4 separate regions of the Homo sapiens genome follow, and regions 2, 3 and 4 are each reported to be linked to region 1. Evidence: microRNA targets listed by miRTarBase, many of them from high-throughput screens and not tested one by one. Region 1 holds a microRNA gene; each other region holds the end of a gene's coding sequence.

Region 1 (4,000 bases):
TTTACTGTTGTTGCTAACAACGTTTAAGTCAAATAAGGGCAGGGACCTTTATCCATTGTTTACCAATTTGTGCTCACTACCTAATACAGTTCCTGGCACACTGTGGATGCTTAATAGTTGGTATTATCAGTGAAAGAGGAAAGCACTGTATAATCTAGCTATAGAAGAGAATTCCCAATATGTTACAAAGGCAGAAACTTCATAAAGGACATAACTGATAAATGTGTAAAAATTAAAACCAACACATACATAATAGTAAAAACTATTTAAAGGTAACCCATAAAAAGGATTATTAATAATAACAACGTAAGAAACGTCTGTACAAATCAACACATAAGAAAAAACAAGCAATTTACCACAAAAGAAGTATAAATAGCCAAACATGAAAACAATTCAAACTGAAACAAAATGGCTATCACATTTAATTGGTAGAGATTTTATTAAGCTGTAGCAGGGGTTCTCCAGGTGCAATTCAGGGACACCAAGTGGTCCCGGAGACCCTTTCAGGAGATCCATGGGGTCAAAATTATTTTCACAATAAGGCCAGTCGTGGTGGCTCATACATGTAATTCCAGCACTTTGGGAGACCGAGGCGGGCAGATCACTTGAGGCCAGGAGTTTGAGACCAGCCTGGTCAACCTGGTGAAAGCCCATCCCTACTAAAAATGCAAAAATTAGCCAGGCGTGATGGCAGGTGCCTGTAATCCCAACTACTTGGGAGGCTGAGGCAAGAGAATCACTTAAACTCAGGAGGTGGAGAGTGCAGTGAGCCAAGATCGTGCCATTGCACTCCAGCCTCGGCAACACAGTGAGACTCTGTTTAAAAAAAAAAATTATTTTCATAATAAATACTAAAGACACTTACTTGCTCTTTCATTCTAAATGTACAGTGAAATTATCCAGAGGCAACATGTGTTATTCACCACATATGAACACAAAAGCAAACATGAGAATCTTGCTGCCTTCTGTTAAAACCAGACATTAAAGAGATGTACAAAAATGTAAAATAGCATAACTTTTCCCACTATTCTGTGGAATAATTTTTTTACTGTATTTTATTGATTAAATATATCGTGTAATATTTTAACAAATATACATGTAACCATATTTCAAAAAATAATTAAAATGTCATTTTAAAATGAATTAACAAATATTTAAATTTCTTAGTTTTAAATTTTTTTTTTTTTTTGAGACGGAGTTTTGTTCTTGTTGCCCAGGCTGGAGTATAATGGCGCGATCTCGCCTCACCGCAACCTCCTCTTCCCGGGTTCAAGCAATTCTCCTGCCTCAGCCTCCTGAGTAGCCGGAATTACAGGCATGCGCCACCACGCCGGCTAATTTTGTATTTTTAGTAGAGATGGGAATTTCTCCATGTTGGTCAGGCTGGTCTTGAATCCCGACCTCAGGTGATCCACCCACCTCAGCCTCCCAAAGTGTTGGGATTACAGGTATGAGCAACTGTGCCCGGCCAGTTTTAATTTTTAATACAGTAAGTCTTGACAGGTATAACCCACATAAGGACTCTTTGGAGTCCTTGATAATTGAGGATAAAGGATCCTGAGACCAAAAAGTTTGAGAACCACTGAGTTATGCTATCCAGTATAGGCAGACATGTGAGCATCCTTCAAACATTTCCATTTCCCATATTCTATTATTAGCAACTAACGATAATGTATGCAGTAATATCGCCTCAATAGGTTCACATACTTGGTGAAAGAAACAAAAAAGTGCCTCAAGGAGGGTCAAGATATTAATAACTATAATAAGGAAACACTGGAAACTACCTAAATATCTAAACAATAACAACAAGGATTGGTTATGAAGAAAATTTTACATATGCACAAAAATTACTATGTCCTCATGAAAAACAAAATAATCCGAATTTAGTTTTTAAAGTTGAAGGTATGTAAATGAAAAAAGTGGATTATGAAAATACGTGTATGGTATGTTTCTGCTAAAACTGTATTTTAAAAGTTATACAAAAATATTCACAGCAGCAATACTCATAATAGTCAAAATGTGGAAACAAGTTGCATGTCCATCAACTAATGAACGAATAAACAAAATGTGGTACATAAGGATGTATTATTCAGTATTATTTAGTCATAAAAGACAATGGAATACTGAAACATGTTACAATCTGGATGAACCATGAAAACACGCTAAGTGAACGATGCCAGACACAAAAGACCATAGACTGTAGTAAGTTGATGCAAAAATAATCGCGGTTTATACCAAATGAATTTATTAATTCAAATCGTCATCTGGCACAAACCGCGATTACTTTTGCATTAACCTAATATGACTCCATTTATATGAAATCTCTAGAATAGGCAAATCTATAGAGACAGAAAGGTTAGAGGTTGTCCAGGGCTGGGGCTGGGGGAGATACTAGGTATGTGGGACACATGGGGAATTATTGTTAATGGGTACGTGATTTCTTTTGAGGGTGATGAACTGTTCTAAATTGATTGTGGTGATTGTTACACAACTCTGTCACTGTATAAGTTTAGAAGATATGTTATATTTCAATAAAACTTAACATTTGTATCTTTATATATATATAAACAAATATTTGAAATATGTTTTCTCAATTCTCCTTCCCTGTAGCCACTAAAGTTTCTTTATGGACATTATTAACATGTAGAATCTATCAAATCTTATACTTCTATCAGGAAATGTATGTCTATTTTGCTTGTTTGAAACCGAGGCACTTATTTATAATATGAAACTATTTCTTCATATGTTTAATTTATAAAAGATGCCACTTAAACATATAACTCTAATACCAAGGCCACAGTAAAATATTAGTATAGCCAGTAACAATTTTAATGCATGTCTTTCCTAGACCTAGGATCTTCCTCAAGAGTGAAAATTGGAAGTAAATAAATCTGGATTGCTTTGAATGGGAGTCACATGCTCAGAATGGCTAAGTTTTTAAGAAAGGCTGAACCACTTACCAGGCTATTAAAAGTTAAAGATATTACCTCATTTCCATTCTCCAACGCTCCTCTTCTTCTCGTCTTCGCCAGTACTCCTCCTTCTGCATTTGCTTCCTCATTTTCTCTTCTTGAATCTTTCTTGCTCGAATACTAGGCTTTACTTCTACTTGCAAATCTGGATTTACTTTTTTCTATTAATATAAATAAGACATTTAAAAAACAGCAGCCCCAAAACAATCTACATGTATTTTTAATCATACAATTACACTTATTCTTTAATCACGGAGGCTTTTAGTTGCAAGTTTCCCACTAGAGAGTAAAATCAATATAATTAAGGTAAATCAGAGAAAAGATTCAAAATACATTAATAAAAATTATGTAAAAAGTATGTAACTTAGTGCTGACCAACAAAAAGTCATGAAATCCTTAGAAAAACTAATGGATATTTAATTTTACTTTACATTTGACCCTTGAACAACAGGGGTTTGAAGTATATGAATACACTTACATCTATGCTGCTGAGTTTCTTCTCCCTCTGCCACCCCTGAGAGAGTAAGACCAACCCCTCCTCTTCTTCCTCAGCCTACTCAACTTGAAGATGATGAGGATGAAGACCTTTATATGATGACCCACTTCCACTTAATGAATAGTAAATATTTTGATTTTCATATTTTCTCAATAATATTTTCTCTTCTCTAGCTTACTTTATTCTAAGAATACAGTATATATGAGATACATGACATACCAAAAATGTGTTAACATAAAAATAACTGTTTATGTTATCAGTAAGGCTTCTGGTCATTAGTAGGCTTTTAGAAGTTTTTAGGGAGTCAAAAGTTATAAGCAGCCTGGAGTCCCAGCACTTTGGGAGGCCAAGGAAGGCAGATCACTTGAGGCCAGGAGTTTCAGACTAGCCCGGCCAACATGGTGAAACGTTCTCTAGAAAAATACAAAAGCTAGCCAGGCATGGTGGCACATGCCTGTAGTCCCAGTTACTTGGGAGGCTGCGGTGGGAGGATCACTGGAGCCCGGGAGGTTGCAGTGAGCCATGTTCATGT
Region 2 (4,000 bases), not on the chromosome of region 1:
TCCTATATTAACAGGACAAGCTAGGTAGGTGGGCTCTGTTTTGCCATTCTGTACATGTGACTTCATCTTTGGGTCTACAGCAATTGTCCCAGTCATCTTCAGCCATATGATTCAAGGTAGCAGCAAACTAGCAGCAAATTAACTTTCTAGCCCATTAAAAGGGAGAAGCAGAGTATTAAGGGCAAATAACTTCAGATTTCTAGGGAATGAATATTAAGTTGTACATATCACTTCTGCTTATATAAAAGTAACCAAAACCTAGCATTATCGCCACATGTAACTGTAGGAGAAATTGGGAAATTTACTCTCTATCTGGGTGGCCATTTTCAGCTAAAACCTGGTGGTAGGCTAAAATGAAGATGGGGAATATTGATCTTGGGATATAACAGCAATTTCCAAAGCAAAATAGAATGATATGGAGATAGAAACTGGGACAGAGCGGTTACATGATATGAGTAGTGTGAGAAGATCTAAGATCTAATATAGGCCCGATCAAAGTGACAGGAATGATTTTTAAAAAGTGGAAGAAAGGAAATATTGGGGAAAAATGGCTGGAAATTTTTCAGAATGAAGAAAAACACATATCCACACATAAATGAAACACAACATAAAACAAGCAAGAAAAACAGAAATTTACAATTAGATATTCTGAAGTGACTATAGATACTGAAATCGGGACCACCTTAAAATAAACAGAAAGAAGAAATCACTCTACAAAATAACCACAAGTAGACGAATAGCTTTCTTATCAACAATGAAAACCAGAAAAGAGTTAATATCTTTAACATGTTAACCTGAAATCAGGAACACAGCAAAACTACCTTCCAACAACAACAAGGAACGATCTTAGTAAATAAAAACTGAGTTTACCACCAAGAGACCTTCTCCAAGGGAATTTGAGGTACAATCATGGGAAACAAAATTGTTAAACCAAAACACTGGATAATAACTTGAGAGTTTATAGATAAGAGATCAGGGTTAAAGTTTCCTAAGGTCCATAGTATCATTAAGAAGGAGGGTTAAGATACTAATATTAGATATTTTTAAGTTAAATATGGTAAGTTTTGAGAGTAAAAGCATGGGTATAGAATTAACATCCTAACTGGTAGAGGGGAAAATATCATGAAATAAGAAGACAAACAAATATTTAGTCAATTAAAGAACTGAGAAGTGAAACATAGAGAAATCAAAGGAAGTGGAAAGCACAAAATAGGATAGCAGGAAAAAGTCCAATCATACAGTGTTAATATATGACAATGATAATAGAAAAAAATAGACTTTAAAGCAGAAAAGCAGTCACTACAAACAAAAGGTTCAATTCATTAAGATGATATAACGATTCTATATTTGTTTGCATGTCATAAAATTGCTCAAAATACATAAGATGATAATTGATAAAATTTCCTGAAACAATGTTACAATGGGAGATTTCAATAGTGCTCCCTCATTTGATAGGACATAGGGAAAAAACACAAAATAAATATCTCTAGATTTTATAAAGAAGTTATCAAATATTCTATTTTTATAGTCTTCCTCTCACTTTTTTCTCTCTCAGTGTATGCGTAGATTCCTAATCTTTTCAAGTCCTTAAGAGAAAGTATATAAAGCTCTAATGCTGGTTTCATTTATTCAAACACTACAAGTATCTACCATATGCTGGACACTGTGCTAGGCTTCTGGAAATAAAATAAATGACAGATACGGCTTCCACTTTCATGTTGCTTTTGTTTATACCCTTGGGCATTTTACTTAATCTTTTAGCGTATATTCATAAGAATACAGTTTTGGTGTGAAGATTAAATAAGATTATGTATGTAATGAACATATGGAGACTAAAATAACAGAATAATAAATGGTAAGTATAAAATAGATTTTAAAATGTTATTTCTTAAGTCTATTGTCAATCTTTACAATTTTATTGTAAATCATAGTGTGAGATACAGCTGCAAATATAGGGAAGTAAGTTCACAAACTGTTATTTTCTAAAGCTAAAGCTAACATTAGGCCTTGCTATGGTAGAACTCTTCACTGGGTTGTTTCTTAAAAAAAATTCACGCAACTGACAGGAGGAATTGTCTTTATTCTTGCATTAATGATAAATGTAATCTACAAGATGGCCTTCATGGATTAGAAAAAGGAATCAGACCACAAGGAAAAAGAAATTGCTGGTTTTCACTCAAGATTTATCTAGAAAAGTGTACTGACTACTGGAATAATAGTTTACCCCTGGGTTGTACCACAGAATGAGAAATTCTACAAGATTATACAACTCTTTTTCTACAAGATTACACTACTCATATTGTTTTTATTCCATTCCGGAATTAGAAATTAACTTTCTAAATATCATTTTTTTCTCCAAAAAAATCCTCTTACCAGCTAACCTGGATATGGACAAAAATATCTTGATTGCTGTAAAGGTCTATCTCCCTAGTAAAAATGAATAAATTGCCCTTGAATTTATTCAAGGCAATCACTATCAGCTGTGGAACACCCAGGTAAACTAACACAACTAGGTTCCTACACACAAAACAAATATTCTAAACTGTTTCCACAGGGCAGCCACCAAGGGAAAAATAAGGAAATTTAACTATTTTATTCTAAACACTTCATTTACATATAAGGCAACTGTGGCCCCAAGGTTGTGATTTATTAACCTAGTTAACGGCAGAAGCTGCACTAAAACCTGGATCTTCTACTTAAAATGTTGTTTTGGCCAGGCGCGGTGGCTCACGCCTGTAATCCCAGCACTTTGGGAGGCCAAGGCGGACGGATCACAAGGTCAGGTGTTTGAGACCAGCCTGGCCAGCATGGTGAAACCCCGTCTCTACTAAAAATACAAAAAATTAGCCGGGCATGGTGGCCTGCGCCTGTAATCCCAGCTACTTGGGAGGCTGAGTCAGAATTGCTTGATCCTGGGAGGCAGAGGTTGCACTGAGCAGTGATCACACCACTGCACTCCAGTCTGGGTGACAGAGCGAGACTCCATCTCAAAAAAAAAAAAGTTTGATTCTTTTATCATCAAGCATTAATTTAATATCCAAAGGCATATATTCGTATTTACTGTGCTTTAAACATTTGTCTGTGCGTCAATGCTTTAAAGGGACATACTATGTGGTGATTCATTTTCAAAGTAAGAATTTGCAGAAAATGAGAAACAAACTTTCTGAACAATACAATTTTAATGCATACTAAGGCTGGTTAACTGGTTAGAATACTAGGTTAACAAGGCCAAACTCCAGATAGGCCAACAGCTTTTCAAACCAATATTCCTGACACTGCCAGGAATAAAGAAAACTCTTCACTACTGAGGGAGGGACAGAAAACCTAGAAAAATAAACCATACTAAAAGAAAAAGGGTATTTTGTTTGTCACTTTAAAGCTGCTTTTTCTTTAAACGGTACACATATTTTCAACATTCTTACAAATGGGCCTTCTATTAAAAAGCAAACTATTGCTAATTCCATGGCTTTAAGTGGAGTACTTCCAATCACTTCCTCTATCCAGAAAATCCGTGACACTACATGCCAGCTACTTTGCATATTTATAACTGTTTAATAAACTATTCAAAATTAGCATCTAAAATAATTATACTTTGGACACACGAAGGCATATATTTGGTGAGAACATTGTAATTTTCATTTTGTAAACTATATATTCTATATTCAAGTAATAACACAGCATTGCCTATACAGAACTGAGGCCTGCGCTGAGACCCAAAACTTGTCTTTTCCTAAATGCACCACTACGAAGAGCTAATAAGAGGTCTGTCCAGATGCTAAGACCAGGTACTTCAAAATCTCCATCCTGCGCTTTACAGGTCTCCAGGGCAGTTAGAACTTTATCTTTCAGAGGTGGAGGGGCCTGACAGAGGCTTTGAAACCTATTGTGCAACTCCTCCCAGGGCACATCTTGGGACTCAGTTCCAACCCAAATGCCTTTCTGAAGGTCATAGTGCAAACGTTGACCCCAGTCTGTTAGCAGACCCAGATAGACAGGAGAC
Region 3 (4,000 bases), not on the chromosome of region 1:
AGCGCCGGGTTGCAGGAGCTCTGCTGCACGACATGCTTGCAAGGACTCCGGATTTTTTCCGTGACTCCTCTAGAGCCCTGACCTCTGGCTCTTTTCCAGGCTCCATGCTCATCATCACCGGCCTGGCCTACTTCCTTCTGAGCAAGCGGAAGAAGAGGAAAGCTGCCCCCGAGGTGCTGGCCTCCCCAGAGCAGTACACAGACCCCTCTAGCAGCGCTGTGAGCACCACCGGCTCTGGGGACACAGAGCAAACCTACACTTTCCATGGGGCCCTCAAGGAGGGGCCCAGCTCCCTTTTCATCCACATGAAGAGTATCCTGAAGGGGACTAAGAAGCCCAGTGCCCTCCAGCCCCCCAACACCCTGATGGAGCTGAGCCTGGAGCCAGCCGACTCCCTGGCCAAGAAGAAGCAGGTGCACTTTGAAGACAACTTGGTCCGCATAGTCCCCTCCCTCGCCGAAGGTCTGGATGATGGGGACAGTGAGCCAGAGGAGACCACCTCTGACACGACACCCATCATTCCCCCTCCCCAGGCCCCACTCTTCCTGTCATCTCTTACAGCCACCGGCCTGTTCTGAGCGCTTGCTCCAGCCTGGAGGACGCTCAGTGAGGGGTCTACCTAGCTCAATGGCCCTCCCTGGAGTTTCAGGGTCTTCTCTGGTCAGCTTTTCAAGGGGTAACCAGACACCCCCACACTGGCTGGGCCCCTGAGGCCATCAGGAGGTGTGACTGGCCAGCATTTCTGGAGAGGCCTCGAGGGAGGCACAAACAAGGCTCACGCCACCTCAAGCCAGCACAAGCTCCTTCCTCCTGGCCACAGGTGGGGAAACCCTTATGCTTCCCCAACAAGACCATCACTGCCACTGCGCACGAGGCTGCAGGTGCCATTGACTCAGCCCAGAAGGGACAGAGGATGTCTGCCCAGCAAAAGCCTCTGGGCTTTTCTTACTCCCAACCCAGGGCACAACACTCAGTGAGGAACCTATGGTCCACCCATCTCTGCAGGCCCAGGGAAGTGTCAGTAACTTAAGCATCTCTAAGGCAGAGAAGGTGGCTGTGGGTCTTGACCAACCAAGACTGCTCAGGGTCGGGAGGGGAGGCTGCAGGCCTCTGGTGGGAGCAGCCGGGCCGTGGGCCACATTCTCTGCATGCTCTAGGGCTGGGGCTGAGCTGCTCAGGAAAACAATGCCGCTCTGTGCTCACTGTGGGAAAGCCAGGCCAGATGAGCAAAGCTCATTCCAGAAACATGGCTGGGGACTTCCAGCCTCCTTACCACATGGCCTTTCCAAGATTCCAGGTTGATGATGCAAACTGAACGCAGTGAATGCCAGGGCCCAGAAGGCAATGTCTGCTGTGGGCAGGACCACAGAGGCTGCCCAGGGGTGGCACAGCACAGAGAAGTGTCAGTGCCGTGTTTAGGCACTTGGTAGCAGAATAGGTGATAAATATAAATGTCTTCAAAATGAAAGGAAGTGAGGGGGGAAGAAGAGGAGGGAAAATGGGAGGATAGGAGGAAGTGGGCAGGCAGGCAAGTTCTCTGCCATGGGGCCACGGAAGTGACAGTTAACCCAGAAGGAACAAAGACATCTGAATCAGATATTCCTTTGTAAATCTGTAAAGGATTTGCAATATAGGCTTTACTTCTAAAAATTGTTGTCGGGTCCATGAGGCTGTTGCCAGGAAGAGCACACACACCATTCTTCATGGCAACTGCAGTGAGGGAGCAGTCAGGAGGAAGAGTCCTGTGGCTTCTCAGTCCCTGTGGAGGCTAACGCAAAGCTCTGTAGAACAAGCCTTAGAGTGCATGCTCTATGGTCTAATGAGAAACTTGTGTTTGTGCTTGCACACGTTTCAATGTTCCCTACAGGATATTTTACAAAGGTATGAAAATAATGGCCAACCAGAAGCTAGTATCAGTTTGGGGCCTAAATGCAGCAGGTGTTCCTGATAAGCAGATAAGCAGAGCTCTTCCTGCAGTAGCCCAGGTCTCACCAAATGACAAATGGCTAATCAAGACACTCCTGCAAGCCCTTGATGGTGAGAGCTGCAGAGCTGTTTCTTCAGCTGCCATCAAGGCAGGACCTCAGGACCTGACTGTCTACAGTCAGGGAATAGTGAACAATATGGGATATGGGTATAGGTAGGTGGTAGACAAGGATCGTGCCCCATGGCTGATGGGCCGGGTGTCTCAGGCAGGCCCCCTGTGCACAGAAAGAGCCTAAGTGCAGAGAAGCCAGGCATCTTTCCCCTGTCAACTGTGGAAGGGGAATGTGATGGCCACAGACACCCTCATGGCACAGACATGGCCAGCCTCTGACGTTCCTCTGCATCAGAGTAGTTCTGTCCTCGAAGCCCCAGTCAGCAGAGCTGGATGACCAGATCGCAAGAAGCAAACCAGAAAGTGTGATGGCAGAGATGTCAGATCCCGTTTAATAAACACTTCAGTAAACCCAAGTGTGGAGTGTTGTTTTGGGTGTGTTTTAGAGATGTGTGTTGGGAGCACCCTTTTGGAGGTGTCTTAGTGTGTGCCGGGAGTTCCAGTGATGATGCGATGGAATTCTGAGGCACATAGGCTTCCTGGAGATTGTCATCAGTTAAGAGAGTGTCTGCTGGTGTGCAGCATTACAGGACAATTATGATCTTACCTAGGTTAGTAAAGTTCTCAAACACTCTTATGGCTACAAAACAAAAACAAAAAGCTGGAGTGAGATCATTAAATAGGCCAGAATTCTCACCCATCAGTGGACCAAGCAAGAAAGTGGCATCTTCCTCATAAGCAGATGAGCACCACGTGTCTCCATTGATTCTCAGCCTGTGACCTCTATGACCACATCCTTGTCCAGAAGAATCCCTGCAAAGCAGATGTTGTAATGATCTGCATCCTTGCCAAGAAGCAAAGACTAGAAGGACTGGCCCTGCCATGATCCCCCTCCCTACCTCAGCAGAGAGGGGAGCATTTTGTATATGAAGAACAGAGTGACAGGAAGAAGAAAGAGCACCAGGCTGAGCACCATTCGACCTCCACTAATACACGTCTGACCTTGTTCAAGCCCCTTCGCATCTCTGGCTCAGGTTCCCCTATTAAGTGCAAATCACAGCAGTAACTCAACAAGACATGGGCAAGTGCTTTTCAGAACTACAAACAAGTCACTGTGATTGCACTACATCCCTATCCCTACGGGGGACTCGCCGTGAGGGGGCACTGAGGAAGCACCACCCTGACTTGCGTCTGTGGCAAGGCCAGTTCAGGTCCAAGAGCTCCTGTCTCCACTCCAGGTTCCAGGGCTAGAGCCTGGGGAGGGTACAGCCCCCAATGCCTACCTCAGAGGAAAGTCATAGTGGACCCCACATTTCCTAGCAGCTGCACCCTGGGGGTCACACCGTGGGTCCTCTGTCTCCCTCTCCCATCAGCCCTAAGGTGGTTTTTTGTTGTTAGTTTTCTGAAATATCTTTATTGAGATATAATTCATATAACATAAAATTCACCAATTTAAAGTGTACAGCTAGGCCAGGCACAGTGGCTCATGCCTGTAATCCAAGCACTTTGGGAGTCCAAGGCGAGTGGATCACTTGAGCCCAGGAATTTGAGACCAGCCTGGGCAACATAGCAAAACCCTGTTCCTACCAAAAGTACAAAAAATTAGCCAGGCATGGTGGCACACACGTATAGTTCCAGCTACTCAAGAGGCAAAGATGGAAGAATGGTTTGAGCCCAGGAGGTCAAGGCTGCAGTGAGCTGAGATCATTCCACTGCACTCCAGCCTGGGCAACTGAGTGAGACCCTGTCTCAAAATAATCTTTAAAAAATTTTTAAATTAAAAAAAAGTGTACAGCTAAACAGTTTCTAGTAGATTTTTTTTTTTTAATACATGGAGTCTCCTTTTGTCACCAGGCTGGAGTGCAGTGGTGTGATCTTGGCTCACTGCATCCTCTGCCCCCAGGGTTCAAGCGATGCTCCTGCCTCAGCCTCCTGAGTAGCTGGGACTACAGGCGTGCACCA
Region 4 (4,000 bases), not on the chromosome of region 1:
CAAAGAAATAGGGTCTTCTCATTTTGAGCCTACTGTTGGTTTGTATGTCAGCTTAACCTGATTCTCGTCTCCTGACAGGCATGCCAGATTTCCTGGAGAAGCTGCACATGGCCACTCTGAAAGCCAAGAATATGGAGATTAAAGTAAAGGACTACATCTCAGCTAAGCCTCTGGAAATGAGTAGTGAAGCCAAGGCCACCAGCCAGTCCTCTGAGCGAAAGAACGAGGGCAGCTGTGGCCCTGCTCGGATTGAGTATGCTTGACAGGCTTTGGGATAAGAAGGGACAAGGTGCTTCTAGCCCTGTCTCAGTCCGTTATCACTCTGCTGTAGAAGGGGGACATGCCACATGTATTAGAAGGCATCTGCTGTAACTTCCAGTGCAAGATAATTCAATAACTGATGTCCCATTTCATTCAGAGCCCTTATTGCTCTTATCAAAACAGAAGAAGGCTACATTTGTGGGAGTGTTGTCATATTCTCAGGCCAACTGTTTTGAAATTCGGTATCTCACTGAGCTAATCTGGAACAAACCTCTCACCTCAGGCCAGAAGGGGATGACCTCCATTTGCTTCTCTGAGTAGTTTCCTCTGCTGACATTCCAAATCCCACCATCGATTGTGCAGCGCTTTGGATTTCCTTCAGTTCTCCAGGTCCACCTGGAAAGTATAGTTGGCCAGTTGAGTCTCTCAAATGAGGGGCTACTGGGAGTGCTCTTGGTAACAATCATGATGTGAATGGGTGTGAACGATACTTGGCTATGTTAAGTGCCTTGTCCGCACCTTGCTTTTATCTCTAGAGACATGAAGTTATTATTAATTTTTTTTTTTTTTAAGTAGAGATGGAGTTTCACTCTGTTTCCCAGGCTGGTCTTGAACTCCTGGGCCATGCCTGGCCAGGGACATGAATTTGTACAAAGAAATTTCCCTCCCTGCCTGCACAATATCACCCATTGACTCACCTTATCCAAAGCAAGTTTCCTGTGAATCGGCCAGTTCTTCTATATTCATTGGATCATTGCCTCCTTCCTAACCTTCCCCATTTACCAAGAACACTGGGAGACTAATCCTTTTAGATAGTAGCTTTTTGATGCTCAAAACATCACATTTAAATTTAGTTTAAAAATTTTTTAACTTTTGTGTCAAATAGGAGTTGAGGAATTGAGCAGGATTCTACCCTAGTCCGATTGTATAGAAAACACCATTTTGATTCAGGTATTATTTTTCATATTTCAGGTTTGACTTGTTCTTTTCAGAAGGCTAAAGTCAGAGGAATGGGGGCTGGGCCACTCCCTTGGAGCTCTCAGATCTACAGACAAGCTGTGTGAATGCATAGATGTAATCTTGTCTCAAATACTAATACAGTGGAGATTTGGTTTATGTTACCATTAAGTTCCTCTAAAAAGTTTTTCTTCCTCTCTTCAGAGCCAAAATAAAAGTGAACTACACTGTTCAGATAAGGTCACAATCTGATGCTGTCAGTTTGACCGAGCTGGTTTTGCTTATGGTCATGCTGCAATTTGTTAGAATAATAGGGATCAAGTTTTAAATCCTCCTCCTTCCCTTTTTTCTGGAGTCTTGAGGGCCAGAGTTTTTGTTTTTGTTTTTGTTTTTGTTTTCCTGCTTGCTACTGTTTTGTGGTGTTGAAAAGTGGTTTAAACCTGAGACTAACTTAAACACTTCCTTGACCTTCTTGTTGCCTGTTCATTTTTGTGCCAAGGAAGTAGCTGCCCCAGTGTATGTCTTGCCTTCTCCGCGTCATTGTTGGAAGAGGAGAGATGCATCGAGCAGTCCCAGCTGCTTTTCATTTATTACTTCTTCTTTCCAGGACCTGACAGAAGTCAGGGAAGAGTCCCTGGGTTATGTCCAAACTTAGCACCTGCAATTGTTGGGATGTGGATGGATGTGTGCATAAGAGAGAGAGAGAATATGTGTGTGTGTGTGTGCGTCTGCGAGCGCACACACATGCACAAGTGCGAAGGAGTTGCGGTTGCTCCATGTTCTGACTTAGGGCAATTTGATTCTGCACTTGGGGTCTGTCTGTACAGTTACTCATGTCATTGTAATGATTTCACTCCTAACTGTGACATTTTTATCAAATGTGTGAATAAATACATAAAGATTGGTACAAAAAAAAGTGTTTGTCTTTGGACAAATGGTGGTGGAAAAATCTTGCATATTGGACTTACCATTTCTTTCTGATCACAAAGTTGAAAAGAATTTTACTCTGAGAGTTGGGAGGTGGAAGTGGCAGGGCTTGTTCATTCTTGGTAGATAGTGGCTGACACAGTTTGCCTAGACCACGAGCCCTTTCCAAGTGACCTGCTTGGCAACTGAAAATAAACCACCTATGTCCACTTCCCTAGCTTGATATACTGACCCATATCCTTTCCCTTTAAAAAAAGATCACTTTGGAGGGAGCAGTGCTAGAGCTTAGCAGACGGTAGAAATCAGGAGGGACAGAAGCAGGCCTGAGGTCTAGGGTTGAGGTTGAGGAGAGGGTCAAGTCAGCGCTCTTGGCGGAGGGGCAGTCCTGCTGGCATGCTCTGAGCATAACATGAGTTTATGTGTAATTTTGCCTGTGGGAAGCACTAGGTGAACACAAAAGCACACCCAGTTGAACTGAGCTGCATAGGAACACACAAGGCACACGTCCCTGTGTGGTGTACCATCTGATTCCAGAGAACCGCACGCCCCATCTCATGCTTGCAAGCCGCAGCCCTTCCATCGGCCATCCTGGCTCTGCCTCACACTCTGCTCTTTATTCTCTTTCAACCTCATTTGTGTTTTACCTCTCTAATTTTTTTTTTTTTGAGACGGAGTCTCACTCTCGCCTAGGCTGGAGTCCAGTGACGAGACCTCGGCTCACTGCAACCTCTACCTCCCGGGTTCGAGCAATTCTCCTGTCTCAGCCTCCCTAGTATCTGGGACTACAGGTGTGTGCCACCAAACCTGGCTAATTTTTGTATTTTTAGTAGAGATGGGCTTTCACCATGTTAGCCAGGCTGGTCTCGAACTCCTGGCCTTAAGTGATCCACCCACCTTGGCCTCCCAAAGTGTTGGGATTACAGGCGTGAGCCACCGTGCCCGGCCTATAACATTTTTAAGTGACAAAATTTTAGAAATGGAAGATTGATTTAGAAATGGCCGGGCGCAGTGACTCATGCCTGTAACTTTCGGGGGCCGAGGCTGGTGGATCACCTGAGATCGGGAGTTCAAGACCAGCCTGACCAACATAGAGAAACCCCGTCTCTTCTAAAAATACAAAATTAGCTGGGTGTGGTTGTGCATGCCTGTAATCCCAGCTACTTAGGAGGCTGAGGCAGGAGAATCACTTGAACCCAGGAGGCAGAGGTTGCGGTGAGCCAAGATCACGACACTGCACTCCAGCCCAGGTGACAGAGCAAGACTCTGTCTTAAAGAAAAAAAAAAAACCACATAGACCAGGCAGGGTGGCTCACACCTGTAATCCTGACACTTTGGGAAGCCGAGGCAGGCGGATCGCCCGAGGTCAGGAGGTTGAGACCAACCAGGGCAATATGGTGAAACCCCGTCTCTACTAAAAATACAAAAAAATTAGCTGGACACAGTGGTGGGTACCTGTAATCCCAGCTACTCAGGAGGCTGAGGCGAGAGATTTGCTTGAACCCGGGAGGCAGAGGTTTCAGTGAGCCAAGATCACACCATTGCACTCCAGCCTGGGCAACGAGCGAAACTCGAAAAACCAAACAACAAACCAGAGCAACACCAGGGATCCCTTGCGATGCTGGTCTACCACCACAGTCAACTGTGGTGTTAGATACACAAAACTACACTGGTGATAAAATTTTAAAGCTTTTTTTTTTTTTTTTTCCCGAGACAGAGTCTCGGACTGTTGACCGGGCTGGAGTACAGTGGCTCGATTTCAGCTCACTGCAACCTCTGCCTCCTGGGTTCAAGCTATTCTGCCTCAGCCTCCCAAGTAGTTTGGATTACAGGTGCCTGCCACCACGCCCTGCCAATT

The links. The annotated mature microRNA hsa-miR-579-3p reads UUCAUUUGGUAUAAACCGCGAUU and lies in region 1 at 2,221-2,243, opposite strand. An mRNA with a match to its seed (bases 2 to 7 or 8) in the 3' UTR can be bound and repressed. Matches are read on the target gene's strand: a 7mer-m8 pairs with bases 2 to 8, a 7mer-A1 pairs with bases 2 to 7 and ends in A, and an 8mer does both.
Region 2: miRTarBase lists FANCF as a target of hsa-miR-579-3p. Seed matches in the 3' UTR shown: 7mer-A1 at 3,635-3,641, 7mer-A1 at 3,119-3,125, 7mer-A1 at 2,606-2,612 and 7mer-A1 at 1,621-1,627.
Region 3: the mRNA of TMEM72 is a reported target of hsa-miR-579-3p. Seed matches in the 3' UTR shown: 7mer-A1 at 1,461-1,467 and 7mer-m8 at 1,993-1,999.
Region 4: miRTarBase lists STARD7 as a target of hsa-miR-579-3p. Seed matches in the 3' UTR shown: 7mer-m8 at 689-695.

Annotation. Positions count from the first base shown.
Region 1 is chr5:32,392,172-32,396,171 of GRCh38, forward strand. MIR579 (microRNA 579) reads right to left here and starts at 2,304; the gene lies at 2,207-2,304. ZFR (zinc finger RNA binding protein) reads right to left here. Exons shown (of 20, transcript NM_016107.5): 11 at 2,988-3,133.
Region 2 is chr11:22,621,002-22,625,001 of GRCh38, forward strand. FANCF (FA complementation group F) reads right to left here. Exons shown (of 1, transcript NM_022725.4): 1 at 1,532-4,000. The coding sequence ends at 3,685. Among named protein-coding and RNA genes, the nearest start is that of FANCF, 2.8 kb to the right of the region's middle. RefSeq lists enhancers at 3,712-3,871, 3,882-3,931.
Region 3 is chr10:44,934,557-44,938,556 of GRCh38, forward strand. It overlaps TMEM72 (transmembrane protein 72), which reads left to right. Exons shown (of 5, transcript NM_001123376.3): 5 at 100-2,454. The coding sequence ends at 578. The region is part of intron 1 of TMEM72-AS1 (TMEM72 antisense RNA 1); the gene reads right to left. Among named protein-coding and RNA genes, the nearest start is that of TMEM72-AS1, 23 kb to the right of the region's middle. RefSeq lists an enhancer at 1,025-1,319.
Region 4 is chr2:96,182,993-96,186,992 of GRCh38, reverse strand. It overlaps STARD7 (StAR related lipid transfer domain containing 7), which reads left to right. Exons shown (of 8, transcript NM_020151.4): 8 at 79-2,134. The coding sequence ends at 263. Among named protein-coding and RNA genes, the nearest start is that of STARD7-AS1, 23 kb to the left of the region's middle.